Regions from separate parts of the Homo sapiens genome. Here regions 1, 2 and 4 are each linked to region 3. The links come from fine-mapping of genetic effects on gene expression. A gene starts in region 3. Each other region holds a variant in brackets. All regions are shown on one strand. Distances are from middle to middle.

The links.
Region 1: its variant is fine-mapped to the expression of TLE3 in whole blood (TOPMed, PIP above 0.99).
Region 2: its variant is fine-mapped to the expression of TLE3 in whole blood (TOPMed, PIP above 0.99).
Region 4: its variant is fine-mapped to the expression of TLE3 in whole blood (TOPMed, PIP 0.99).

Annotation. Positions count from the first base shown.
Region 1 is chr15:69,803,080-69,811,170 of GRCh38, reverse strand. It overlaps the pseudogene GEMIN8P1. Among named protein-coding and RNA genes, the nearest start is that of LINC00593, 28 kb to the left of the region's middle. RefSeq lists a silencer at 5,993-6,189. The variant G/A (reference allele first, on the strand shown) is at 3,195.
Region 2 is chr15:69,758,079-69,766,169 of GRCh38, reverse strand. The region is part of intron 2 of LOC107984788 (a long non-coding RNA gene); the gene reads right to left. Among named protein-coding and RNA genes, the nearest start is that of LINC00593, 73 kb to the left of the region's middle. RefSeq lists an enhancer at 5,168-5,237. The variant T/C (reference allele first, on the strand shown) is at 4,406.
Region 3 is chr15:70,095,300-70,100,299 of GRCh38, reverse strand. TLE3 (TLE family member 3, transcriptional corepressor) reads left to right here and starts at 2,383. Exons shown (of 20, transcript NM_001105192.3): 1 at 2,383-3,525; 2 at 4,039-4,139; 3 at 4,659-4,722. The coding sequence starts at 3,502. RefSeq lists enhancers at 26-1,063, 1,151-2,125 and silencers at 1,056-1,205, 1,276-1,355, 2,945-3,114, 3,125-3,244, 3,965-4,394.
Region 4 is chr15:70,044,212-70,052,302 of GRCh38, reverse strand. It overlaps TLE3 (TLE family member 3, transcriptional corepressor), which reads left to right. Exons shown (of 20, transcript NM_001105192.3): 19 at 836-912; 20 at 2,099-4,513. The coding sequence ends at 2,206. Among named protein-coding and RNA genes, the nearest start is that of MIR629, 31 kb to the left of the region's middle. The variant T/A (reference allele first, on the strand shown) is at 3,632.

The DNA.
Region 1 (8,091 bases), 290 kb after region 3:
GGGAGAAGAGACTGAAGGGGCCTGGAGGGAAGTGGGGAGGAAAGGCAGAGGAGGCAGGGGAAGGAAGGGTGAGATGGGAGGCAGGGCTGAAGGGAGACAGGTTCACCCTCATTGCAGCTGCTTCTCCCTCCCTCAATTGCCTCCCCCAGTGATGCGCCAGGGAGGCGTGGGGGCATGGCTTGGGAACCTGAGTGTGCTCTCTGAAATGTCAGCAGAAATAAACCTGGCTAATCCTCTGCGATGGCCCGTCACATTAATATCCCTGAAATTCCAAGCGGATTAAAATAACCGTGAGCATGACACCATTTGGAAGGCTGGGGATTTACTTGGAAGAGGTGGCCCATTGGCGAGCATTCCTCTAATTGCTGCTTCATATAAATAGAGTGTTCTTTAATATCGCCACCAGCCCTGGCTGACAGATTTAGATCAGAGCTGTCTAAGTCATTAGTGCCCAGGCCGTGGTAAACCAAGGCTCCGTTAGGGCTGTAAATGGGATTCTCACCGGCCGATCAATCTTACCAAAGCCGCCAGTGTTGCCTGTTGATCTGCAAGGTCCTGAGTGGCTACAGCTTCCCAGAAATGTGCTTGCATCTGTCAGAATTATAAGCAGCTGGCAGCTGACACAAAGGTCATATTTGCTGCTGGTGTGGAAATAGAATCTCCCCAGTACAAGAAATGCTACTTAGCAGTATATCAATTGCAGGCGGGTCATTAAAGGAGGGGTGTGTGTGTGTGTGTGTGTGTGTGTGTGTGTGTGTGTGTGTGTGTGTTACAACCTGGGTTGCCTAGAACCTATATCCTTTGTAGGTCTACCCTGGGCTCAAAAGCAGGTGCTCGGTTGAATAAAATTAAATAATAACTAGTTCGTGATGAAATTCTCAGCACTATCACCATAAGGCAGTTTTTCCTTCTGTCATCTAACAAGTATTTACTGAGTGTTCATGCTGTTCCAGCCACTGTTCTAAGCACTCTATAACGACTTAGTGAAGGCTCTCTCACTTGCTGGCTGTGTCGTTTGAACATGTGATTGGCCTCTCTGAACCTCAGGTTTTCTACCTTTAAAATGAGGATAGTAATACCTGCTTCAGCTGGGTGCGGTGGCTCACCCTTCAGCTGGCCTGTAATCCCAGCACTTTGGGAGTCCGAGGTGGGTGAATCATGAGGTCAGGCATTCGATACCGGCCTGGCCAACATAGTGAAATGCCGACTCTACTAAAAATACAAAAAATTAGCTGGGTGTGGTGGTGGGCCCCTGTAATCCCATCTACTCAGGAGGCTGAGACAGGAGAATCGCTTGAACCTGGGAGGTGGAGGTTGCGGTGAGCCAGGATCGTACCACTGCACTCCAGCCTGGACGACAGTGCAAGACTCTGTCTCAAAAAAAATAAATAAATAAAAATAAAAGTAACACCTGCTTCAGAGAGTGTTGGGAAGCCCTGATGAAATAAAGTTCCTAAGATGCTAGAGCTGGTGATGCTTAGTGTGCCCCAGCCAGCAACAGTAATGGAAACTTACATCAGATGGTAGCATCTGAGAGGTTGGTAGAGGAGATGAGGGAGCCAGGAAAGGATCAGCCAGACTCAGAGGTGGTAAACCAGTTGTGGGCACCTGGTGAGGAGGAACTAAAGGTCTAAATGACTGTGTCTACTCAGGCTCCATCTGAGGGCAGATCTGATTTGGGGAGGGGAATCTCACAGCAATGGCAGGTTCCAGGACAGGGTCTGTGCGTGCTTGTTATGCTCTATTCAAGACAGTAGCCCCAGGGAAGCCAGGTCCTGCTCCACCCAAAGAGAGGGGACAGATAAGGGACAGGCACAGGAGCCTCCAGCAGCATCAGACTTGGGCAAGGCAGAACCATTGGGGATCCCAGGTTGTCTCTTGGATTTTTTTCCTGGCCCTTCTCACCAACCGGAAGGCTCATCAGCTCTGCAACAAACCTGGGATGCTTGTTTTGGAGTTGATTCTCTGTAGGTGAATTGGATCTGAGTTAAGCCAAGCAATTCTTTGACAAGTTGGCTCCTAAGATGGGATTGCATAAAGCGCCATGGCAAGAAGTCCGTTTTCTGTGCTGTGACAGAATTCCACCCAGAATCCACTGAAAGTTCATCTAGGGAGGTTGCTTTTGCAAGACTCAGCAAGTGGGTTGCTCCATCTCAGCCATTGGCACATTCCTCATCACTGCTTGGTTCCTTGTGTCAACACAACACGTTACATGTTTATAAGTCTGTTTTGTCTCATGGCTTGTAGGAGTCTCACATCAGCATGCATCAGCTCTCTGGGTGGCCACTTGACCCAACACAAAGAACTCAAACTTTGGAATCCCTCAGCCCTGGAATCACACCCACCTTCACCATCAGTTCCACTCAGTAGTCCAAAAATTCTAAGCCCCACCTTTGTATGCATTTTAACGGCTCTGAAATCGGAATGTGTCTTGCAATCAGTGACACCTTGCTGTTATAATTGGCAGTTCTTTTTCTTTTTTCTTTTTTTTTTTTTTTTGAGATGGCGTCTCTGTCTGTTGCCCAGGCTGGAGCGCAGTGCCGCGATCTCAGCTCACTGCAAGCTCCGTCTCCCAGATTCACACCATTCTCCTAGCTCAGCCTCCTGAGTAGCTGGGACTACAGGCGCCTGCCTCCACACCCGGCTAATTTTTTGCATTTTTAGTAGAGATGGGGTTTCACCGTGTTAGCCAGGATGGTCTCAATCTCCTGACCTCGTGATCCACCCGCCTTGGCCTCCCAAAGTGCTGGGATTACAGGCGTGAGCCACCGCGCCTGGCCCCTTTTTCCTATTTTTGTTGTTTGTAAAATAATTGTGTGTCTTACAATCTACTGAGTCTTAGAGTTGATGAATTAATTATGTGTCTGAGCTTTGGCAGGTTTCTTCTTTTGAAGCTGTTTCCACATCTGTAAACCGAGGCTGACTGCACCTCCCCAGCAGGGCTGTCATGGAGACGAAGTAAGATCTGATTGGAAGTGGAAAGTGCTCAAATGTGGTAGACACTGGATGCATGAAAGCTGCCACCACTGTCAGTAGGGCAGCAAAGGTGACCTCATTTTACAGATGAGGAAACTGAGCCCCAAGGGGAGGCTTGACCGAAGTCCCACAGACACAGGCAGAAATTTAAGATTTTCAAAAGACTGTCATCTGCATCATCTCCTCCAGTGTTTACGATCACCAAGCCAGGAACAAGC[G/A]TGACTCATCGAGGGTGCAACCCAGGAGGCCTAGCCTCAGGAGGAACAGGGGCTGCTCCTGGGCACTCAGTGGCTGCTGGGCTTGGGCCCAAAGGCAACCAGCAGTGCCAGCCCTATTTTACGGGAAGTCACTGCCAACATGCTGCCAATCATTTTAACTTTGACCTGGGATGTGGGTAAGGAAAATCAAAGTCAAATGGTGTTTGATAATAATTCTAGGAGACAGGTGCTTGCAACCTTTCTAAAGAAAATATTGTGGACTAGTTTTAACTCTATGCATAAACTACAGTTTACATTATATCAGAATGAATGTCACAGGCCACACATTCAGATTTTTTTTTTTTTTTTAAAAAGAAAAATCTAATTTCTCCTTTGATCCGCTATTCCACTTTTAGCAGGACCGCCATTCAAGTCAATTCAAGGCTTTCCCCTTCTCACCTTCTCCCAGAGGATGGATTCAGTTGAGGTGGGGAAAACATCACATCAGTGCATCTGGGGAAGCAGGCCTGGCTCTCTGCCGTCAGCTGTCCACCCTGGGCGCCACTGGACTGGCCATTGCCCAGCTGGTCCTTGGTGGCGGCCACCCCTTGTGGACTGGTGGGGAATCCTCATTCCTGCCCTTGGTCCACACCTGCACCTGCTCTTACATCCTACCATCCCAGGCTCAAGGCCCTCCAGGTTTTCTGGCTCTCAGGACCATCAGATACACTCAGAAACATTCTGTTGTTCGCTACACAACACCGGGGGGATGAGGGCTTGTGATGCGTCCTGAACCCCCCGGAGGTTGCTTCCTGCCTATCTATTGGTCCTTCACGACACTGAATGCTGGGACTTCTCTATGGAGCTTCCTGCCTCCCCACGGAGTGGGGGCACCTGTCTCTCTTCTCTCTGATCCCCTAAATTATTGGAGATTCTATCGTCCCCTCAACTTCAGAGTTTGAGAGCGTGGAACGTGTAGGCAGGACCATTCCCAGAGATTCATGCCAGCATTTAATTCTCTTTCCTTCTAAGGACTTTTTTTTTTCTTTGCTCAGGGAGTCATTAATGTAGACTGGGTAGGTGGGAAAAAGTAGCTTAACAAACCATACACTAGTCCTCCTGATTTCTGTGTGTCAGGACTCGGATTCTCGAAAGGCAAGATTTTGAGACTCTCAAACTATTGTCTCTGCCATGGGTTTCGAAAGCTGCATATTTGTTTCTCTCTCGCTCTGCATTTCTGCTCTAGTTACTCTACCATGAGGCCAGTGAGTAAAGAATGGAAGGAGGGTAGGAATCCCCAAGGAGAGCAGTAGTTGCGAATGTTTCAAATAGTTCATATCCTTCTATCATGGAAGCAGGAACGCTGCAAGGTCTATGTTGCTGATTAAATCAAGATTTTAAACACTTATGTAAAAGAGTACCCTTGGCTGCATAATCTGAACTGCAAGACAGGAGATGGGCTTTGTAACCTCATTCTGCCCCCAACCAGATGGGGGCTTCCTTCCTGTGTGAGTCGTTGGGAGAGATGGGCTCCGGGCTTCTGCTGCAGAAGCCACAAAAGCCTCCCACCTGTTCTCCCAGACCCTAACAGCCAGGGAGGGGAACGCAGTCTGTGCTCAGCCAATCACCTGTACCCACTGGGAAGAACACAGAGAGCCATGGGTCCATTTCTGATGCATCATGGGCCGTAGCTGAAGTGGGCTAATCAGATTTCGTGGCATGATCTGGCTATGCTCTCAGCAGCCCACTTTCCCTTGGCTTCTGCTTGTTTTCTGGACCTGGTTCTCCAGTCTTCCAGTGGGTTCAGTGGCCTTCTCCATATCCTTCCATCAAATCTCATTCTCCCTAGGTATCCAACATCGGCATCTATGTGGTGCAGCCAAGAGCTCTGACTGGTGATCATGAGTAACTCAGTTCTTCTCTAACGACCTTGGTGTCCTTCTCCTATGAAAGGAGGTGTTTAAGGCAGGTGAACTCCAGGATCTTACAATCTACCTTATGCTTTAAGTGCTTTGGGGCTGAAATGCATAGCCCAGTTGGTCAGTTCACCCATCCATGTCCGACGCTCCACCATTCTCTAGGTGGCCCCTATCTACATTTCAGGGACTAATCACCCTCTGCACAGTCAGCCTGGCACCCCATTCCATCCAGTATGCGAATGATCCACCCACAATGAGTTCCACAATCATTCAATCAACCAGGCTCCTTTATTACAGGACTTCTCAGAGCCTTTAATATGCTAATATACTTTGTGATCCTCTAAGAGAAGACTATAATACACATAAATCATTTCCCAAATCAATTTCGTCGTACACTTGTTGCCTCACTGCCTCTTTCAAGAACTAGAACATAATGGAACACTGCTGTGGAAAAAAGATACCAAATGTCACATGAGGAAAGACGACATCTGGCTTGACTTCCAAAACATACACACGCACAAACTTGCACATGCAGGAATTCTCTGGTCCAGCCTGACTGCATTGTAACTTTTTTCTTTGGCCGCCATTCAGCTTCCTGGATGCACAGGGATAACCAGTGTTAAGTGCCTTCACCTGGGGTTCTATGCCCAGGGCAACAGTCAGTGGTGACTCAGGGTTTGGTGTTTCCACACTCCACAGGGGCTGCTCTGTGCTCCGTGCCACTCAAGATGAAGCAAGTGCCACAACACCTGTGCTCCCTGAACCCTGGATGAGCAGCTGTGATGTGTGCAGTGTGCAATCCCCTGCCCCACAGAATTCCTGGTGGAGAAGAGCAAATAAGCCAAGTGTGACAACAAGCATGACACACTGGTGTCCCTGCCCAGTGGGGCCTGAGTGCCCACTGTCCAGCCTCTCAGGCAGCCCTGGCTTGGCCTCTAGGGAGAGTTTGGAAGCTTTCCTGACACCTACCCCTAGGTCACAGAAAGCCTCAAACATACCACAGCCCCCGTTCTGTTCTCCCATAGACCTGCCATTCAGGAACATGTCAAAACATTTTGAAACCATTTCTCAAGTTGTACCCTGTCTGGAGAGAACAGCTTCCCTAAGTGTGCGGCTTATTGCATCAAGGATTTCCTTGAGAAGCTCTAAGGGGAACTCCTCAGATCTCTATCACAGGGCTGGCTGGAGATGCCGGCACCCAGATCCCTCCAGGAGTGCTTGACTGTGACTCCATGGATTCCATGGGGATATGAGAATGGTCCCCTTTAACCTTTTTGCCTTCCAAACTATAAATATCAAGGAATATGTCTTCCTTATTATATTTGGTCTTTTTCTTTTGCTGATCATACTTGTATCAGTGAGGACTCATTCTACTTCAGTTAACTTATAATCTGACCCAAATGTGTTTAAACCTAAAAGAAAATTTATTAGTTCCTATTACTAAAAGATCAAAGGGTAGGGCCAGCTTCAGGCAAGGCTGGATCAGGAGCTCTGTGCTGTCTCCAATATATGACCTCTCTCCAGTCCTCAGCTTTATTCTCAAACTCAAGGTAACACCCAAGGCTCATTTCACAAGCCTGAGGGTTCAAGTCTAGCAGGGAGACTTGAGCCTGCTTTCCACAAAAGTCCTGACTTCATTCTGATTGTACTAGCCTCTGGTAACATGCCCACCCCTGAACTAATTGCTGTGACCTGGGAAATGAGAAGTGATGATTGGCTTAGGTCAGGGTCATGTGCTCTACCTCAAGAACCCCCACCCAAGCCACCTGGGCTAAGAGAGGGCTTGACCCCAAGTCCAATCAGGAGCTGTTGTTAGGCGATGAAGAAATGAATGTGAGGGAGGGGTAAGCAATAAGTGTGTGCCAACTACTAATTCACAAGACATCTAGCTCAAAACAATGAGTGACCAGGGAATCTTTAAAACTTCTCACTAAGGAAGGAAAACTAGGCCCCTGCTTGGCCACCGCTCAGGATATGCAAGCTGAGAGCCCATGAGTTTCGGCACCCACTTGGACTTTCACAATCAGAGACGGCAGCGGTGAAGGCATGAACATTGAAAGCTACCAGGCCTTGGTATTCTCATCCGATATATGCAAGATACTGGCAACATTATCATCAAGCAATGGCTTCGATGCAAAGCCACCACAATGCCTACAGGAAGGCCGGGGAATCCTGTTGCAGTCTTCCTTGGTACTTCCCTCCTGCACTTCCTCCCCAAAGCTGTTACGATAACCAGGCTGCGTATCCTTAGTCCTTCTATGGCCATCATGTGACCTGGCAGGACTCCCCGTGCAGTTCTTTACATTTCAGAGGGTCTGGGCAGCAGCCACATGACAGCAGTAGAATCCAGGCATCCACAAGAGAAGACCAAGATTTGTCCAAAGAGGAAGAGATGGAGATCAAGTTAGATGCAGAGGTAGAATGTGACCTGAGCAATATGGAAATCACCAAAGAGCTCCGCCAGTACTCTGCAGAGTGCCTCGGTAGAGGCACAGAGAAGGACGGTGGTGACAGCAGCTGGATGCAGAGCACCTGGAAAGCTATGTGAAGGCTGACCACGACCTGACCTGTACTGCAACACCCGCTGGTTGGTAGAGGCCCCAACTGAGAGGCCTAGAGAGCAGCGTCCCAGGCCGAGATGAAGCGATTGTATGGGGACAGCGCCAAGATCCAGGCCATGGAGGCTGCGGTGCAGCTGAGCTTTGACAAGCACTGTGACCAAAAGCAGCCCAAGTACTGGCAGGTCATCCCCCTGAAGTTCTGAGCTCGGGGCACAGGGCACCCAACCTCTCCCTCTTCCTTTTGGGTACATTTTCTTCATCTCTCCTTCTGTACATTTCTCAGTAAAAGGGGACTTTGTACTGAGGTACAGGCATGTTCACCACAGTCCCAGTGGGCCTGTCACAGAGTGGATGTACTATGCCAGCCACTTGGAGGTCGGCAGACATGTTCTGCTGCCGACATGATGAATTTTCTCCTGACATCAAATGATGATTTTG
Region 2 (8,091 bases), 340 kb after region 3:
GCCACTCACTAAAATACCAATACTACATCATTTCACTTATAGGACGTACTTAGGGTAGTCAAAATCATAGAGACAGAAAGTAGAATGGTGGTTTTCAGGTGCTGCGGGGAGGTAATGTTTAATGGATACAGAGTTTCAGTTTTGCAAGATGAAAAGAGTTCTGGAGATAGATGATGGTGATGGCTGCACAACAGCATCAATGTATTTAATACCACTGAATGGTACGCTTAACAATGGTCAGAATGTTATGTGTATATTACCACAGTAAAAAAGCTGAAAGAAATACGTATATAAACACACACACATATATATGTATATAAAACATACAAACACATGTATACAAACAGAAAAAGAAAAACCTAGAACTCAAAAATGTCAATAGTGGTGATATCTTGGGATAATGGAGTTATTGGTGATTTTTCCCTTTCTAATTATTCTAAATAAATTTGTATTACTTGTTGAATTAAAACAAAACCAGGGCCGGGCACGGTGGGTCATGCCTGTAATCCCAGCACTTTGGGAGGTCAAGCTGAGAGGATTGCTTGAACTCAGGAGTTCAAGATCAACCTGGGTAACATGGTGAAATCCCCCTCTCTACAAAAAATACGAAAATTAGCCAGGCATGGTGGTGCATGCCTATAGTCCCAGCTACTTGGGGACGCTGAGATGGGAGGATCCCTTGGGCCATGGAGTTCAAGGCTGCAGTGAGTGGAGATTGTGCCACTACATTCCAGCCTGGAGACAAAGTGAGACCCTGTCTCTAAATAAATAAATAACAAAACCAAAAGACTAAAAATTAGATTGAGGGAAGACCTATTTCTATGAAGTTATCCCTAAATCTTAAGGGATTAACAAAGAAGTTAATCATACCCAACCCTACACTTGAAAACTGGAAACAACCCTTTATTCTATCATTCATAGCATTGTAGTCTAGAATGTTCTTATAGCAGGTAGGTGTTATTTGACCAGCATCCTTTAATTCAGGGCACCACCACTCTGCCATTTCATGATTTTGAAGTGGGATTGACTGGATGTCTTATTCTTTCCCAGGCAACATGGATGAGCCTCAAAAGCATTATGCTAAGTGAAAGAAGCCAGACTCAAAGGCTGCATACTGAATGATTTCATTTACAAGATATTCTAGGTAAGGCAAAATGATAGTGACAACGATCACATTAGTGGTGGCAGGAACTAGAGAGCTGGGGAGGGGGCTGGCTCTAAAGGGACAGGAGAGAACTTTGGGGGATCCTGTAAATGTTCTCTGTTATAAGTGGTTATAGGATACTACACATTGTCAAAACTGAATGCATTGTACACTCTGAAAGGTTAAATTTCACTGAATAAATAAGTTCAACACATGTGACTCAAAAAATAAATTAAAACTTTCGTTTTATTTTTTCTTTTATTTGTTTATTTATTGAGAGATAGAGTCTTGCTTTGTCACCCAGGCTGGAGTGCAGCGGTGCAATCATAGCTCACTACAACCTCAAACTCCTGGGTTCAACTGATCCTTCCGCCTCAGCCTCCCAAGTAGCTGGGACTACAGGTGTGCACCACCACGCCTGGTTAAGTTCTTACATTTTTTTGTAGAGACGGGGGTCTCTCTATGTCTCTGACTCCTGGCCAGGCTGGTCTCTGACTCATGGTGGAGCTGGTCTCGAACTCCTGGCTTCAAGCGATCTTCCCACCTTGGCCTTGCAAAGTGCTGGGATTACAGGCATGAGTCACCATGCCAGGCCTCAAAACTTTTACAACAGTTTTAAAAATTAATAAGAAGGACACTTTAAACAAATCAGCGAGAATGGCGGGTAAAAGACCCTTTGGGGCCTCGGCTCTGCAATGGAACAGCTGGCTTAGGCCAGGGGAACTGACAGCCCCAGAGACATGAAGATCATCAACATCTGTCTTCTTACAAGCAGCAATGGAATGAAAGTGGGAGAAGCCCCAGGGGCACCAGGGAAGAATATGGGCAGGAGGGCTGGGCAGAGTCCGGAGCCCAAAAATCCCCTTCCCTGGTACTGGTGCCCCCTCAGACACTCTGGGCTGTGCCCAATCTGCCTCCAGCTCTGCCTCAGCTCACTGCCTGCTGGAGCCATCTCCCAGGTCTTGGCAGCTCTCCCTCCTCACTCTGGTACTGACCACCTGGCATGTTTTCCCCTCTAGTTTGCTTCAGAGCCTTCTCTCTCCAACTGCTCCGTAGCTAACCCCAGCCTGACTCCAGCCTCCAAAGCCAGCTATTGAGAAAAAAAAATTATAAATGGGAAACAGTTCGAGATTTGGAGCTTATTAGATTTCAAGTTGGGAAGATCTACAAAAGATGCTGATGCTGCTTTGAAGGCACATATACTTCCTTCCTAAATTCTTGCTCTGATTCCTAACTAGCAACAGATAACCAAGTTACCTCACTATCACCTAATGCCAGTAGGAAGAAGGAGAACATTAGAAATAATATTATCCTTGGATATCTCAAAGAGCTAAAGGCTGAAGTTGTCCTAACCAGCTGCTTAACCAGTCACAACTAATTATCAGGTGAGAGAAATCAGGAAAAGCCATGCCACTTCAGCAGAATGGACAGCCCGGCTGGGCCCCATCAAACTTAGGGACAACTAATGTGTTCTTCCAACTCCCTGATGTATCTCCTCGGGATTGTGGTCCATGGCTTCTCTTCTCATTTTCCTAAAAAATCTCTCATAAGCCTGGGGCTATAGGAAATTAATATTAGTAGTGATGGGCTCAATTTCTAACCTCTGCATGGGCAGGGGATGTGGAATTTGCATACCACTTCTGTATATGCCTTCTATATACCATTTCCTAAAAACAAGAAAGACTACCCACCCCACCTCACTCCCAAAATAACCAAAATGATAAAGCCCAGGCTATTTGACAAGGGAAGTTGAGTCTGTAGTCAAATGCTTAAGAGATTTCTGTTTATTTAACTCTGCTCCATGCATCGCTCTAATAAGGTTGTAGAAGGGACATTGGCCACACCAAAGGAAGCTCTCAGGGGCACTCATAAGCAAGGCTTGTCCAGAGAACTCTTGTGGAGGGCTCAGGCTGAGAGGAAATGTAGGACAAGATGCCCCGGGTCCTGGTCCACACTGGCTGGTCCCTGGGAGCCAGACCATGAAACAGAGAGACATGAACCTCAACCAGCACTGCTCTCTCTCTCATCCAAAAGAGCTTCACAAGGAAGGATATCCTTCAACACCTGTCCGCTCCAACCTCAAGCCCCTCCCTCCCGATCTGCTCCCATCCCCAGCAAGGACATCCTGACCATACACAGAATAAAGAGCTCCCCCTTGAGTGTGAAATGAGATGAAGCCGTACATTTCTCCTACAAGGCCTGGAGTTCCTCCATTATTGATAGACCTAGGAGAGTCAAGCATTATCCTCTCCAGGTTCATCTTTCCAAAGGTATATTTTTCTGAAGGGGGAAAACATATTAAGGCTCATGGATCACAGTGTGAATAAACTAAGCTGTTGGTTGATGCTGTTTCATGCTCTGTCTGAAGGAACCTGGGCAGGTGAGAGCCCTGGCACCTGGAGCCAGCTGGCAGAAAGAGCAGGGGAAGGACAGGGGCAGAAGTAAAACTCTATGGATGTCGTGATTTGATCAGGCACCAGCTCTGCCGAGGACCTCTTGCCTCCTGCAGATCACAAAATCCCAGACTGTCAGACCACAAATACTCTTAGTTCCAACTCTACCATTGGAGATACAGGGAAACTGAGGCTCAGAGGGGCAAAAGAGATTCCATGGCATCTTACTCCTGGCCTATGGTTTTGCTTTTTTTCATGAAGAATTTTTGGGATTCTAGAAGCTGGGATAGTAAGGAACTTTAGAGATCATCTAATTCAGACTCGCATTAAAGATGGCTATGTTCTAGAACTCAGCCGGCCACTTCAGACAATAGGCATGGTGCTCTGATCATCCCTGGAGAACAAACTCACATGAGATATGCATACAATTGCGTACCAGTGACAGCAGATTAAGAACCTGGCCACAGTTATTAAGGATCTACTATAGGCTAGGAAGTTGACAGAAATTATTTCAACCTATATTCTAAACTATCTTTTGAAGGCCATTATAATTATCCTCACTTTATGGTGGAAGACACTGAGAATCAGAAAGGTTAAGTAATTTATTCAAAGTCACAGCAGTAGTAAGTTCAGAATATGGGATTTGAACCCAGGTCTCTGAGACTCAAAAAAAGCATGATTGTGTCATTAACTCCTCATGGTGTTTGTATGAAGACAGAGAGATTGAAAAATGTTGAATTTTACCTCTTTATTATCCCTAATGGTGGAGGAGGTGGTGCTGAAAGGCTGATTGTAGAGTTATCAATCTTATCTATCTTTTAGCGTAAGTTCCTGCTTTCATTGACCATCTTCCCAGACTAGGTCACTT[T/C]CTCCTATTACACACCTCAGTATTTCCCTTCACAGCGCTTTTCACAGTAGTGATTTAATTGCCAATGTAATTATTTGGTCAATACTTCTCTCTGTCAATAGACTATAAGACCCATGAAGGTAGGGACTGAGTTCAGAGTCTATCTTGGTCACCACTACATCTTCTGTGCCTAGCACAGGGCCTATACCAAATATGTGCTCATAGTATCTGTGGAACAAATAGATGAATGGTTGGACGGATGGGTGGATAGATGCATGGATGAATGGAAAGATGCATACATAGATAGAAGGATGAATGGATGAATGGACGGACGGATGGATGGATGGATGGATGGATGGATGGATGGATGGATGGATGGATGCCTGCATGCATGCATGCCTGGATGGGTGGGTGGACGGACAGATGCATGGATGGATGGATGGATGGATGGATGGATGGATGGATGGATGCATAAATGGATGGTCAAATGTATGGATGGTTGGATGAATGAATAGATGAATCTCAGCTCACTGATGTCCTGAAATGTGCAGTGACCCAAAGCCCTGGGCTCTGAGAACCAAAGCAGACAGGACTTTGTTTTTGTTTCTGAACACTGCCTGTGTGGTGAGTCACCCAATTTTTGAAAACCACATGCTTCTTTCCACAATCAGGCTGCCCAGAGGGGCCCCCAAGCCTCAAAGAGCATCAGGAAAACACTGCTCACACGCACAATTACTGCCAGTTTCTTATCGTTGCTGCTTTGATGTGCTGTTTGTGAGTCAGAGCTGCTGTTGCCTCAATGCTGTTCCTGTTTCAGCAGCATTCTGACATTTTTTTTTTTTTTTAAAGAAAAAAGTCGGAAGTGGCAGACTCTGTCTTTGGGCTAGGACTACAGACTGTTATTTGATTTGATTACTGCTTCATTTGATTATGGATGGACTCGGGATTGAGGGGGATAAGGATATCAAAGAGAAAATGGTGGCCATATCCCACCTACGCTAAAGTAAAGAGTACCACTCCAGCCCTTTGGAAGAGAACATCCCCAACTCTTCCCCAGCAGATCCACTATATGGAACCCACTGTGGTCAGACTGGGGTCTGGCTATTTCCTGCCACACCCTGAACTTTCTCACTTCCTTTCTTACCTATACATTTCCAGTTGCCAAGAATGTCACCCCTCTCCCCATCTCCACCTCTCAAAAATACCATGCAGCCTTCCAAGGCTAAACTCAGTTACAGCTTTCTCCACTGAGCCTCTTCTGTTCACTGCAGTCAACAGTCTCCTGACCTGCCTGCTCTTTGAGATCTTGTAACATTCACTTCCCATGTGCTAATTTACTCATGTTACTATCTGACGATAATGTGCATTTTGCAATGTTCTGTTGCAATTTAAAGGAAGAAAGTTATGATGTCTTGAGGATAATGGCACTCTTGGGGCCAAAAGAAAGAAGCTGGAGTCCAACTAAGCTACTTTCTTCCTATCTGATCTCTGAGAAGTTATTACCCTCAGTTTGTTCATCAGTAAAATCAGGGTTTTTCTAGACTTGAATATCAGATAAGATAATCGTCCTAAACATGCTTTGTAAACTGTACAATTGTGGTGTATATGAAGAATAATTAACATCATCTTCATCCTTTCCATCATTACTGTCAGCATCATCAGCATCATCACTGCACTTCTATTTCACTTCCCATGTGTTAACATACCTGGATAACACATATTTGTTATCTCCTAAGCTGGACTGTGGGTCTCTCATGGTTAGGGACCTAGCGGCATACCTCTGAACCTCCTTATCTTACACATAGCACAGGGCTGGGTACACCGTTGATATCCAGTGACTGTTTCTCAATTGATTGATAAACTCAGATGAAAATAACTCAATAGGAGAAAGCTATATATGACAAGGAATCTTTCAGAGGTCCTGTTTTATTTCTTCCTTTGTTGTAAAAATAACAAATGGAAAGAAGTACATTATTAAAGTCAGCAACATCTCTCCCCGCACCTGACAAGAATGGTCTTGCACATTTTTTTTGCCATATCCCTTGACAGCACCAGGACACTTCTCATTCCATAGTCTCATCCAACCTTCAAGAGAATCCTTGAAAAGGAAACAGGGAACCGCAGGTGCATAACGTCCCATTCTACAGTCAAGTGAAGTGAGGCCCAGCAACATGATCTCACTTACTCCAAGATGGAGCATTGAGTCATTGGTAAAACCCCGCCCATGAAGGAGGTCTCCTAACTCTTGGCCCTTGGATGTTTTGAGGTGGACACTGATTCCACTGAAAGAGAATTTTCTACCACTAATCAAGGAGACAGAGGTTTTATAAATGATACCTTATTTATTCTTCATGGTGTCCTTGAAAATGACCTATCATCATCTCCTTTGTATCCATGAGGAAACTGACACTCTGAGAGGTGAAGTGACCTGCCCAAGGTCACGGAGAAGAGGTGGGGCCAGGCTCTCATTTCCCAGTACCCACTGAGCACACTCTAGGCATGTGGGCTGAGCCTACTGCCGGGCTGTGAATCTCTCCCCCCTGTTCTCTGGTTCCTTGATTCACAGGAAGTTCAGGTCAACCACATCCTGCCACGTCTTTGCAGACAAGATAACGATCCCCACCACCACCATTCTCTGTCCCACCACAGCCCAGCAAGGGCAGACAGGCTTCCTTTACTCTTTTGATAACCACTGTATGTCACAGCTAAAAGGGGCCTAACTCTGAGTTTCCCTCCTTTAAAATCATCTGGTCCACATGCTAATGGTCCAGAATCCCCAGGTCATCTCTATAGCTTGAAATAATCATTCTAAAGTAGGGGTCCAGGAATCTGTATTTTTAACAAGCATCCTGAGTGATTCAATGAGTGTTCAAGTTTGGGAAACCACTAGTTAAACCCTGCTGGGATGACTTTTCCCTGTCATCCCAGTAGTGTAGGCTGGGTTGTATCTTTGTCATACTTACTGTGTCTGTTATAAGGGGCCACTGAATGCTACTGAATTTGTACTTTGCCATTAAGGAAGAAGGCCTGGAAAGTTAATTAAGCCAGCTTGAGATCTAACCCGTCCAGCTCTGCATAAGCAAGAGGAATGATGCATTTGGAGGCCCTCCTGAAGAACTCCCAGCATGCCAGCCTAAGTCCACATGTTCATCATCTGAAGCCACCTTCTTGGAGTGATCTGGAACTGACCCTCAATCCACAAACATTAACCTTTAGCCCAGCAGTAGGCAAACTACTTCCTACAAGCCAAAGCCTGCTGCTTGTTTTTTGTGAAGTTTTATTGGCACAGAGCCACACCCATTTGTTTATATATTGTTTATGGCTGCTTTTGCACTACTATGGCAGAATAAAGCCTAAAATATTTACTATCTGGCGCTTTACAGAAAAAGTTTGCCAACCCCTGCATTATCCCATCTATCAACCAGCAAAGCTTCATTCCTGTGGCTGTATCAGATGGCCTCTGGCTTTCCCAGTCATGTACCCACAGTATCACAGCAGCAGAGTGCTTGAGCACCTCGTAGGGACTTTAAAAACATGTTGAATGAAGAACCATCACAATGAGCTATTTCAATTTCCATTATGCAAATGAAAAAAATCACAGCTTTTAGAAACATTAATTATGTAAGCCAAGGTCTAAGAGTTAGAAAGTGCTAGAATTAGACCGGGAACAGTGGCTCATGTCTGTAATCTCAGCACTTTGGGAGGCC
Region 3 (5,000 bases):
CCACCCCTCCTCCACCACTCCTTCTAGACTTCTGGAGGACGACGACAACAAAACACTAAATGCAAGTTTAAAGGGGGGAGGGGAAAGTCTTCAGGCTTCCTCCAGAACGTGGGCTGTGGAAGTGACCTGTTTCAGGCGTGCGCAGGAGTCGCCACACCGTAGAGTTTGGGTTTTCTTTTTCTTTCTTTTTTTTCCTCTTTTCTTTTCCTTCTTCTTTTTTTTTTTTTTTTTTTTTGTTTGTGTGTGTGTTTTTACCTTTTATTATTTAAATTGATACGTTTCATTACTAGGGAGAAAAATAAAATATTCCTTTGATACACAAAATCAAATTGATATTTAGCCTCTGCTTACTTTTTTATGCATGGCTCCTTTATACCACATGGTAGTGACAGATTGTTTGAGCTGGAAGGAAAAGCCATTCAAAGCTAATTAAGCAGCCATTCCAAGCACTATTTGCAAGCGGGAGGCTCAGAAGCCTCGGCATTTGTCAGCGCTCCCCCACCCCGCGTGGTTTTGACTGACAGCTCTGGCCGCGGACTGACAGGGCCCAGCAGCTCCGCCAATCAGCAACGAAGAGCCCCTTCGGCGGTCCGTGATTGGTGACTCGCACCTTGCTCGGAGGCGTGGTCGGCGTCCCCCACGTGGGGCTGGAGCGAGAAATGGGCGGGGCGAGTAAGAAGCGGGTGCGCCCACCCGTGACGTAAGGGGGAGGGCAGAGAAGGGGGAGGGGGAAAGGAAGCGCCAAAGAGGAGCCATTTTGTTTCTAATGAATGCTGCGGCCAGATGCTCGCATCTGTCGAGCCGGGCTTCTCCCTCCCCCGTCTTCGGTGCGCGCCGAAACACGATTTATGTTTTTATTTAGGAGAATAAATAAATGAAGAGGGGAGCGCGGTTCGGGGCTGGCGGCCGGAGCGGGCGCGGGGAGGTTCAGTTCTGAGGCGGGTGCTCACGTGTAACTCCCCGCGCTCCGGCCTCCGAGCGCCCGCTAGCTCTCAGCTCCTCATTAAGATGCAAAAGCGAACCTCCGGCTCCTAATGAGGGGAAAATATAGATCCGGGGACGCGCGGCCGGCTCGCGCGCGGGCTCGCGGACTTGCCGGGGAGGGCCCCGGGGGTCCCGCCTTGGCCGTCCACCGGGCGGTGCGCGCTTTGAGGTCCACTCCCTGCTTGCTCGTCTGCCCCGCCGTAACCCCGAGCGCGGGAGGGCGAGGCCATCGGTTTGCGGGCAAGCTGGCCCCGGAGTCGAGTGGCCTGTGCGACCAAGCGGGGGGTCCGGGGGGCCCGGGGCCGGGGCGAGCGAGCGGGGGAGCGTCCGCGTCCCTCGGAGTGTCCAGGCTAGCGACCGAGACACCTACAGGCTTCCGCCAACGCCGTGGCACTGCCGGGAGCAGGCTGAGCAAACCAGGTGGGAACTCGGAGTTCCCGGGCCTCGGCCGAGCAGGGTCCCGACCCCATCCCCAACCCCCTCAGCCTGGGGATGCAGTGAGGAGCCCGCGCGGCGAGGCTGCGTCGAGGGTGAAGTTGTGCCCACGGGGAAGGCGCCCCGAATGGGGCCAGCCGTGGCTGAGCCTGTTGTCCACGGGCAGCCGGGCCCTTCCATCTGCGCTGCCCGCCTAGCCAGAGTCCCTCAGACTTCTCCTCGCAGGCAGCCGCCGCACATCAAAGGAGCTGTTTATTTGGCTTTCTGAAAAGAAGGGCGAGTGAACAAAGGAGAGCTGGGGGCTAATGTGGGGGAGGCGGGCAGAAGAAGGGGTGAAGAAAAGGGGACATCCTGAGTTCCGAGCAAATTTTTAAAGGTCGGAGGCAACTTTAGGAGCCACCGTTTTATCAGTCCTAAATCTTTTGAAGTGAAAACATTAAAGTGACAAAGTGATTGTTTGTTTTATAGTATCTAATTGGGCTGCTTTGCAGACCTAATGAGATTAGAGGGAGGAATCGTTCGCCGCCGCTGCAGAATAAACTGATACATTACTACCAGCCACAGGTTTTGAAGATTGTACAGCTTGTCTTATTTTCTTTTGTTGTTATTCCTCTGTCTTCCCTCTTTCCTCCTCCCGCTAAATAATTATTTGCTAGTAGACCGTGGGAAAAAAAAGGAGGAAAAAAACTCGAGCAGCCCAGGACTATAATATATATCTATTTATTATATGTCTTTCGGTTAATTCCTGATCTGAGGAGCGCTGTTTTTCACTCCCATGCGAAAGTCACCAGCGGGTAGGGCCTGATTGCTACTTTTCATGCATAGTTTTAGACACAAGAGGGCATTGTGACGTCGCGCCCAGCGGCACCCAGTCGTAGGCCGAGTCCCGCAGCCCCACGTGGGGGCCCCGCGCTCCCATTGGCCAGCGCCGGACGAAGCTGCCACATTATTTTGTTACTTTTCAGTCCCTATTTGGAACTGCTCTCGCGGCAGTTCAGACCTCGTGCTCGTCCCCTTCGCCTGTCTGTGTGTGGTATCCGTAGGTCCGGGGCACTTTTTTTTTTGGTGTGTGTGTGTGTGCGTGCGCGCGTGTGTGTGTGTTGGGTGTGTGTGTTTTGGGGGTTTGCCGGGGCGCGGAGAGGAGAGCCGGGCCGAGGGGAAGGAAGGAAGCCGTAGAGCTCCCCGGTCTCGGGCTGCGTCTCCCCTCCAGCGCTCTCCTGCCTGTGCGCTCCGACGCGGCAGCGGCGGTGGCGCTGAGCGCTCCTCGGTGGGGACGCGGTGCTCAAGCTGGGAGCAGCGAGAACCCTTTGCGGAGGCTTCCCGTGCCCGCTGGACTTAGGATGCCAGGGCGTTTGATTTGCACCTACTGAGCCCGGAGTTCCTCCCCGGCCCTGGGAAGGGCTTGCAGCGGCGGCGGCGGCGGCGGCAGCGGCAGTAGCAGACGGAACAGCAGGCTCTCCTCTCCGAGGGGGGGCGTCGAAGCGCCCGCGCCGGGCTCCCGCCCTCACCCTCCGGCGCTCCTGCGGCCCCAAGCCACCACCTCGTAGCCCGCCTCCTTCCTCTTCTCGCCGCGAGCCCCAGGCCCGGACGCCTCTAGGATCGGACCCGCGCGCCCCGGATGCTTGGGGCTGCCCCGGCGCGCCCCCCTACAGGCGCGACCCGCTGAGTGACCCGGAGGGGGCCCGAGCTCGCCCCAGGAGGGGCCCCCGGCCTCGGGACCCCGCGCCGGACCTGCTGGGGAGCCGACGATGTCCGCGCAGTCCCAGGCATTGACGCGCTCGACGCAGCCCAGGGAAGGCGGCCGGCCGCTGCCCGCCGAGCCCTAGGCGCACAAAGCCCGCGCCCGCCGCCCGGCCCCGGCGCCCGCCGACGACTTTGCCGCCTGCTCCGCGGCTCTTTGTCTCCACTTGGGGCGGGCGCCCGACTCTGGGATTTCGCTGCGAGAACGAGCTGGGGGGGCCGGGGGCGAGCTCTCGGTTTCCCGGCCGCCCCCCGCTCGGGCTCGGCTCCCCCCTCCCCCGCACCTCCCCGGCCCGGGCTCTCGGCGCTTCCACGCTCTCGGAATCACGACCCCTCCCTGCCATGTATCCGCAGGGCAGACATCCGGTGAGTAATTGCAACTCGGTTTATTTAAGCATCTATCATGGCAGGGTAAACGAGGCAGTTTATCTGGCACCTCCATTTTGCTTGTTGCTACCTTTATGGTGTGTGTGTTTGTGTGTGTGCTCTCACACAAAGGGGGATGCGGCCGGGGGGCGCCGTTGAGAGAGGAGGTTAATTCCGCGCGAGTGGCGCGGGGGGCTGCTTGTGTTCCAGGGGGAGCTGTTCACGCGGTCCCCGGCCCCGCTCTGAAGTCTCCCAACTCACCCGGCTTGTCTCCCGCCCCCGCCTTACTGGGGAGAGGGAGGCCCTTGGTGAAAGGCATGGGAGCCCCGCTGCCGACGGGGAGAGATGGGGCGCCCCCCCTCCGCCCCGTCGGAGAGCTGAGAAACTTGCTGGGAAGGTTCTGGGCTGAGGGTGGCCTCTTTTGGTTGGGCGCCGTTGGGGAGGGGCCGGGGCCGCTCTGAGCGCGGTCTCATGCCCCCGCCCCCTCCCCTGTCTTGTCTTCGCGGGCTCCAGGCTCCCCATCAACCCGGGCAGCCGGGATTTAAATTCACGGTGGCTGAGTCTTGTGACAGGATCAAAGACGAATTCCAGTTCCTGCAAGCTCAGTATCACAGGTAAGGCCGGTGGGGGCCGCCCCGGGGCTGGCGGGGAGGGGTGGGTCCCCTGCGCGGCTCCTGCCATCCCCCGCGGGGACGGAGGGGGCTCCCGACCTAGGGGCGGCGGGGCAGCCCGGGCCTCCGCCTTTTGTTTCCCCTTTCCGAGCGCGCCGCCTTAACCCTTTACTGCCCGCAGCAGCCCGGCTCCCAGCGCCGCCCGTGGGGTCCCCGAATGAGGGTCTAGGTCGCGGCGAGCGGGTTCACTCCGGGTTCTGGGTGTCGGGAGCCAGCGTCAGGGTCCTACTCCCCTGCTGCCGTGATAAGTCCTTTGGCTCGCGGGAAGTTTCGAATTGTTTCACATCCCCCTCCCCACGGCGGGGACCCAAATCCCCCCGCGTCCCCAGGCTGTGGGATAATGGGGGCGCCCCCGGGGGGGTGTCAGGAAAGTGGAAAAGTGGCTCTAGAGGCCCTTGGGTCGGGGCCTCAGAGGAGGCTGTCCAGGCGCCACGCCTGAGCCGGCTCCTCCTGCCCTCGCAGCCTCAAAGTGGAGTACGACAAGCTGGCAAACGAGAAGACGGAGATGCAGCGCCATTATGTGATGGTGAGATGCGGCCGCGGGCCTGGGGGGCGGTTGGGGCGCCGACCCCGGCCGGGGGCGCGGCGTGGATCTGGGGAGATGAGCGCCAGGTCCCCACCACCGCCCAGCCGCAGGGCGGCCCTGAGAGAGGGCATAATCTGGTCTTGCCCTCCCCTTCCCCAGCTTCCATTGCCGGGGCCACTTGGAGGAGGGTGAGTGAGGGGAGGGGCAGAAAGAGAAACCCCGATTCCAGGCCGGAGACTTCTGTACTATCTTTATGTGCCTTTAATTTGTGTTTTGAA
Region 4 (8,091 bases), 50 kb after region 3:
GAAGAGGGGCCCAAAGCTTATAGAATAAGCTAGGCCCTGGAACCAGGCCTCCTGACCCCTGAGCTGGTGCCCCTTCAACACCCTTAAGTGATCTTGTTCCACATCCTTGTTTCTCGGATGCAGATGTCACCATGAGTTATTGAACTCTCAGGACACTAGGCCAGAGCCAGTTCTTGCAGGCTTGGGGCAAAGGAACAGGACAGTAGCAGTGCAGGCAGTTCCTCTCCATGGTTACAACCACTTGCTTTGGCATCTGAGAGCCTTGGATGGGAATGTCTGCTCCTCCACTGACAAGCTGTGCAGTCTTGAACATCTCACCCTCTCTGAACTCTAGTGGATTTTTCTCTCTGGTCGGGAATAGCATGGTGCTCATGGCTTTCAGGGAGCATAAGGGCTTTAACACTTGTAGAGCCCTGGCCGAGTTCCTGCTTGGAGGAAGGTCGCCCACTGACTGCTGTCTTCAGCCAGGTCTCCAGACTCCCAGGGCTTGGATATTTTCAGTATTTCCTGTTGCCTTCCAGTAGTAGAATTTAGAAAGGCCAGTCAACCTTAGTGGCTTTAACAAGAATCTTTTGAGGCAGCGTTATCACTGCAATGAACTTCAAATCCTACCTTTTCCCATCCTAGCCCCGCCCAGCCCTCCCCCTGGATTTCAGAGAAAGGCCTTCTCCAGGTGTCCGCATGTCCCATTTGCAAAATGCCTCTCGAAATTGGAGAGTTATACTAGTTAGCAGTTCTCACTGCTTTTCTATGGCAGCTGGCCATGTCTAGGGCAGGTCTTGCTTTAGAGGGCAGTGAGCTACAACCTGATCATGCCTTTGCCTCCCACCTGCAGGCAAGTGGTTCGTGAGCACTGGGAAAGATAACCTTCTCAACGCCTGGAGGACGCCTTATGGAGCCAGCATATTCCAGGTACTGCCCACCGTCTGAGTCCTCCTCTGGGTTCTACCCAGAGTTGAAACTTGGTGATGGTGATGGGAGTGAGGATAGCAGCAGGAAGAACAGGAGGAGCCTGGAGCCAGGATCAGACCTGCCCTGGTCCCCTCCCCACCCCTACCTGATAGGGGAGCAAGATTGGGTTCTCCCAAGGACCTGGGGACTTCAGCAGGACACACAATCTGCTACTGATGGCTTCTGACCCCCGAGGGCAAGGGCTTCTAAGCCGGGGCGCTTGTCGGATTTGGAGAGTGAGGAATAGCATAAGTGTTTTTGCTCTGGGCTGGATGCTGAGCACCTGCGGGAGGTGCGCTGGGCACCTGGGCACCCGGCAGCCTTGCCCAGAGCAGTGTTGCCTCCTCAAGTGAGTGAGTGTTTCCACCTGCATTCAGCACCAGCAGGGACATGGACAGGAAAGAGAGGAGGAAAGGAAGAGGCTTTTTATAATCTACCAGGATCTGGGGCCTGCCATACTGCACTGATTGGCACACACACGTGTGCACACACACACGTGCACTCTTTCCCATACACGATCAAACTCACACTCATTTACTCACGCACACTTGGTCTCCCCCACACACTTTCTTCCTCTCTCTCTCTTGCGCTTCCACACACACACTTGCATTCTCTCTCACTCCCTCAGCCAACATGCCGCTTTCTGGACCCAGGCTGAAATGTCTGGTGTGCAGCGTGTCAAACCTCATTGTTAGGGTCTCTAGTTACAGCACATGCTTCAAACATCAGGTGGCAATCCTTTTCCTAACTCATCAGGCTGTGGGCCTGAGCTGCTGACGCCAGCTCCTAGCTTGGAAATGCTTCTTCCTATTTGTAAACTCGGAGGAGAAGCTCTTGCTAAAGCGTCCTGTTCTGATCATTATGACTTACTGTAAAGATCACGTGGGAGACTGTTACTGAGCTTTTCCTTATGGAAAAGCAGGTGGGAGGGGAGCTCTACCTGAAAATGCTTCATGGGTGCTTTAAAGCCTCCCCCACCTCCTCTTCACCGCACTGTGCTCCAGGTCGGAGCATCAGAGAGGGGCAGAGGAGGGCAATTGTTGCCGAGAGAACCGAGATGGTGTTGAGCACTGGAAAATGAATTCCTGTCTTTTTTCTCCCTGCACCCCACGCCTTCCTGCTGCTTCTCCTCGTCTTCCTCCTCCAGTCTAAAGAATCCTCGTCTGTCTTGAGTTGTGACATTTCAGCGGATGACAAATACATTGTAACAGGCTCTGGTGACAAGAAGGCCACAGTTTATGAGGTCATCTACTAAACAAGAACTCCAGCAGGGCTGTCAAACTCTGGGAGAAACCGACTCGGCTCTGACAGGGAGACCCCCAGGCGAGGGGCCCCGAGGATGGCGGAGGATGGGCCGCAGGCAGCCGAGCGTTCAGGGCTGCGCTCCGGCCGGCTGAGAGGGCACGTGCCCCGTCACAGTCTGGACTCCTGGGCCTGGATTGATGTGTCTCACAGACTCGGAAGGGTTCTGCTCCTCCTCCTCCCCCTGAACAATGCTGGCAGTTGCTACAAATAGATTTATTGGAGGCTTATGGCTCCGGTTCCCCCACAGACCCGCTCATGAGTCTCTGTTTGTTCTTCCCTTTTCTTTTGCCCTGTCCCTCACCTTGGGTCGGGGGTGCTGGAGTGGACCACAATGTTGTGCTGGGGGATGGGGGGGTCTCTCTTTGCCGATTGTGCAGTGCACAAGATTTGTGAAAAATGTAAATAACAGACTCCTATTGCGGACTGATCAGTGGGAGAGGAGGCCCCTTCCCACCGGAAACTCTGAGTGTGTATTTCGCCTGCTGTATTTGTAATCCACTCGTGGTGGTGGCTTTTTTTTTTTTTTTTTTTTAAATAAACAGATGCTCTCACCTGGGAAGAGGAGACAGGGAGGGGAACCAATTGAAGAAAGAGGAGAAAAGTCTTAGAGTGTGGAAAAGGCAACCAGGTTGGCCGTAAGGTGCCTGCTGGAATGCGTGTGCCTCCACACGGGTCTGGGCATCCGGACTGATAACCAGCCGGCCAGACTGAGGGATGGAAGGCACTGAGATGGGGGCCCGTCCAGGCGGACACCCGCAGAAATGGAGCTTTCTGTGGTCTCTTGCACTCTGGCTGCCTCTTGCCCTCTCTGTGTCTCTCTTTCTTGGTCTCTCCCTCTCTCCTCCTCAGCCTGGTCTTTCTCTTTGGTGCACACTTAGTTATTGTTGTGAGCAATGGAAGTTCAAAGGAACTCCCTCTCCAGCTCTTCTGAATCTTGGGACACAGCCTAAAAAGGACAAAAAGTTAGAAGACAGCATAGCAACTCAGCTCAGGGAGCTACCAGAGAAAAATAGCAACTGATGTGGGTGCTTTTTTTTTTTTTTTAATTTGAATAAAAAGAATTAGAAGTGATGTCCTTTTATAAAATGCCTTCTCCCCCTTCCCGCCTACAGTCTCTTCCTCTCCCCTTAGAGGGGGGAAAGTGTATAAACCTACAGGGTTGTGAGTCTGAAAAGAGGATCCCCCTCACCCCCACCCTGGGCAGAGCAGTGGGGGTTGGGGGGTGGGAGAGGGGGACACAGATCCTGGCACACTGTGGATATTTCTTGCAGATTGCAGTCTCTTGTGGCCCAAACAGGTTAGGTAGACTATCGCCTCTGGCAGGTGCCACCTTTTGGTACCAACATGTTCTGAGGTGTTAGGATTTGGGTTGGGT[T/A]TTTTTTGTTTGTTTTTTTTTTCCTTTTGGTCTTTTTTTTTTTCTCCTTTTAAAGAAAAGCTAAAGGCCGCTGTGAGTCCTGGTGGCAGGCTCTCCATGGATGTAGCATATCGAAGATAATTTTTATACTGCATTTTTATGGATTATTTTGTAATGTGTGATTCCGTCTGCTGAGGAGGTGGGAGGGGCTCCAGGGAAAGCCACCCACCTTCAGTGAGGTTGCTCCCCAGCTGAGCGCACCGGGCATGGGATGTGGAGGCTGGCGACACACCCTGTGCCTCTCCAAGGCTGGGCGCGTGGGGCGTCCAGAGTCTCTCTGGGTCTCAGATGTCCATCTGCCACCTCTTGTTAAGGCTCTAGCCAGAAGGGAGGGTGAGGGTAGAAGAAAGTTATTCCCGAAGAAAAAAAGAATGAAAAGTCATTGTACTGAACTGTTTTTATATTTTTAAAAGTTACTATTTAAAGGTTGGTTTGATTGTTGCGTCTTAATTGCCTCTCCCCCCAGTTTGCCAGTCCCGCCCCCCGCCCCCCGGGAAAACAGCCAGGCCACTGTTGCTGTCACATTCTGGAGCCTGGGCCAGGGCCATTTCCCATCGATGTGAGCTCTTCTCATCTCACAGCATTCCCTGCGCTGCTTCCACCCCCTTCTCCCCTTCCAGATACCCAGCATCGCAGCAGGGATTTCACAATCCCATACTGTGTCGCCTCCCATCCAAGCGCCAGGGAGGGTGGGGGGTAGGAGCTAAGACTTCCTCTGGACAGATGGGCAGGGCAGAGTTCACTGAGGTGAAGGAAGACCACAGGTTAACACCAAAGTATTGTACAGCTGTCAATGCAAAACTTTTTTGGAAAAAAATTAAACGTAATGAACTTGAAGCGAAACTGCAAAGTGTCTGTGAACATCTGGACCTTGGAAACCTGCACAATTTTATTTTAAGCTTAACACGTTTAGGTGGGACGAGGAGATCTTCAATCTCTAGGTCACAAAGGTGTGTTTTTGGATGATACAGAAGGAAGCATTTGCAGAAGAGGCAGACCCAGAAATGCAGGTCATTGTCCCCAGGGAGGGAGTCGGGGGGCTGGGCGGGAAGAGGAGAATGCTGGTGCCCATTCCCGGGGCGGTCCCCAGGCTCTTGGATTTCATGCACCCATTAGCAAAAGCTCTCAGGGCACTGGAGATTAACATGGTTTCCAACTCCTTATTTTGTCAAAGTCATTCTCAGCACAAACAATTGCCTGCTGTCATTTCATACAAGAAAGGGAATCTCACATTTAAAAAAAAAAAGAGGAACGACAGTCTCAGCATAAAGCACAGTCTTTATGACTAGAAGGGACAACTGGCCTCTCTCCACACAGAGGGGTCATTTAGCTGGAGAGGGAGGTCCTCTCAGGCTTATGGAGGAGACAATGCCAGCAGGTAGAAGGGACCAGACAGGCTGCAGTGGGCTACAGCTCTGCCTCAAATGGTTGCAGGGGTGTGAGTCAAACAGCTCTCCTTGGACCATACCTTTCTCGTGTGTCCATCTCTGGGCATTGCAACAGAGGGCTAGGGGGCTGGGAGCAGGCTCTGGCCAGAATAAGATTGTGTGTTTGTCCAGAGCATGAGGTTACCCATGGGAGCCAAGATCAGGGTGGAATTGGGGCTTGCAGGCCCCAGTTTGGCAGAAGAGGAAAATGTCCATCAGGGAATACTCACCCCCCCAGGCTTGTCCTATTGGAAAGCAAGGCCAATGTTACTCTTTGAGGAGAGACTGAACCTCTGCAAGTCTGTTCACTGAGATTTCCTGGGCACACTCAAGGATGGAGAGATGACCAAGAGTCAGTCCCTGCCACAGAAGCTCACAGTTCAAGGTCGGGGAGATGATACAGCCCCTTACTTCATTTGACCTGTGTTCCCACTGCTGCTGTCCTTAATGCCGGCACACTGGGCCTCCCCTGCACTGAGCCTCTCTGCACGTGCTTCCTCCTTCCTCCTGCTGCGTCTCCCCATCCACCACTCCACTGCTTTCCACCCAACCCTGGCTGGCGGCACGAACCACATCTGGGAGCGTGTTAGAAATCTAGAATGAGCCCCTCAGTCCTACCCAAGCAGAATCTGCATTTTAACATGCTGCCGCGATTCCTGTGCACATCAGTATTTGTGAAGCATTCCAGTCTGAAAGGAGGGGCCCACTCCATGGTAAACCTATTCCCATCCTTAATCCCCCCATGTTGCCCCCTTTTTACTTAACAGGGTGACAGGAGGCTTTGATGCCATTTTTCTGGCCTTTATCACCCTCCAAGTGTTCCTTTCCTCTTATGCAGAAATCCAGGCTTGTAGCAACCATAGCGTTTACAACATGTTCCTGCACCTATTTGCTTGTCTCTTCCCACCTAGACTAGTTTCCCTGGAGGGCAGTGCGCAGGACCTCATCAGCCCAGGGCAGTGCTAGTGAATGATGAGCTTTCACCAGTTTGAGATTATCCTAATTCACAGTGTCTGGCGTGATACCCAGGGCATCCGATACTCAGTAACCCGAGCCCAGAGAAGTGAAATGATGTCTGGAGTGTTTTCAATTCTATTGTGCTGTTTTTGCTCAAAGCAAGATCTGTTTTTTAAAAAATGGAGGGCCACAGTTGTCAGAGGCCAGGTTTAATGTTTTAGTTGCCATCAAATTATAAACAAATGGGCTGGGCATGGTGGCTCATTCCTGTAATCCCAGCACTTTGGGAGGCCAAGGTGGGCAGATCACCTGAGGTCAGGAGTTTGAGACCAGCCTGGCCAACGTGGTGAAACCCCATCTCTACTAAAAATAAGAGAATTAGCTGGGCTTGGTGGTGGGCGCCTGTAATCCCAGCTACTTGGGAGGTTGAGGCAGGAGAATTGCTTGAACCCGGGAGATGGATGTTGCAGTGAGCCCAGATCATGCCATTGTACTCCAGTCTAGGCGACAGAGCGAGACCGTCTCAAAAAAAAAAAAACAAAAAAAAAAGAACAAATATTTGGGTCATCTTTGGCAATAGCTGACAAAGCCACCCTTTCTAGCTTCCCTCTGAGTCGCAGCCCCCAGGTGGCCCCAACCCCAGCATGGGCAGTAATTGTCTAACTTGTAGGGTCTCTGAGAAGGTATGGAGACAGAGATCTGGACGCTGGAGCCAGAAGGATCCTTAGCAAGACTGCTAAATGTTAGGTACTGGCCATCAAATGGCCCATAATGATGCAAGTGTAATTTTTTTTCCCAATAACTTATTCAGTGTTTACAAATGAGCATCATTTTTAATATAAAGCAAACAAATCTGAACTTTTAAAAAAATTGTATGATTAATGGAGCATTTTTAAACATTATACCAAAGTTGGACCTTTTATATTTGAAGAGACATCTATACTAAGCCCAATTTTATAGATGGGGCAATTAAGGCCCAGGGAGGGCAAGTGACTTAACATGACTCACAGAGTCCAAGCCAACATTATGATGAAACATCCCCCTCCCCTAAACCCTTAGCACACTCAGGATGGAAAGCTAGGAGGGAACTGCCCAGCCTACAGGACTTGATGTTGCTTGGAGGATTAATATCCAGGGAATGAGTCTTCCTGCTCCTCTACCAACAGTACTGGTAAGGAAATTACTCATGGAAAGGAGATGGCCCAGAACAGTCATGGAAACCAGCCTCCTGCCTCAAGAACTTCCTAGAACTCACCCACCCACCCATCTTGCCCATCCTTCTATCCATCTATCCACCCATCCATTACCCACCCACACATTTATCCGTATACCCCTTCATTCACTCTTCCATCCATCTATCTAGCCATCCTATTCACCCGTCCATCCTACCAACATTTATATAGTAAGAATCTAATATGTGCCTGGCATGGTTCTCGATGCTAAGATGCAAAGATAGTAAGATGCAGTGCCTGCCCTTAGAGCTCTCAGCCAACTGGGAGAAAACAGAAACTGACAATTCCCACTCCATGAGATATGTGAAAGTGCAAACCAGATGTCACCACACATAGCTGAGGCATTGACTTGAGTATGGAAGGGCAGAGCAAGAGGGTCCTGGAAGGACCAAGAGCTAAACAGAAGTGAAGAATACCATGGGCATGCCAATGAAAGGTATGAAGAAAAGTGTTCCAGGTGGAAGGAACAGCATGTGCTAAGGCCTGGGGTAAAAGAGAGCATGGTCCCAACAATGCATCCCTACCTAACCCATCTAGTTCTTGCTCCTCCCTCCAGCTCCATCCAGCCTTCTTACATCCCAGTTCTTGCTGCAACTTCCCGACCCCTCACCCCCACCAGTAGCCTCCAGGCCAGAAGCTGGGCTAGGATTCTGGCTGAGCAGGCTGGTGAAACCGGAGGAGGGAGCTGGACAGAGACCACAATTCCAGCCTGAACCAGGAGAGGCAGAGGAATGGGGAGAAGATGGAAGGAGGCTGCAATTCAGTGTCTGAGAATGCCCATGATAATGCCCCAGGGCTCTGAGTC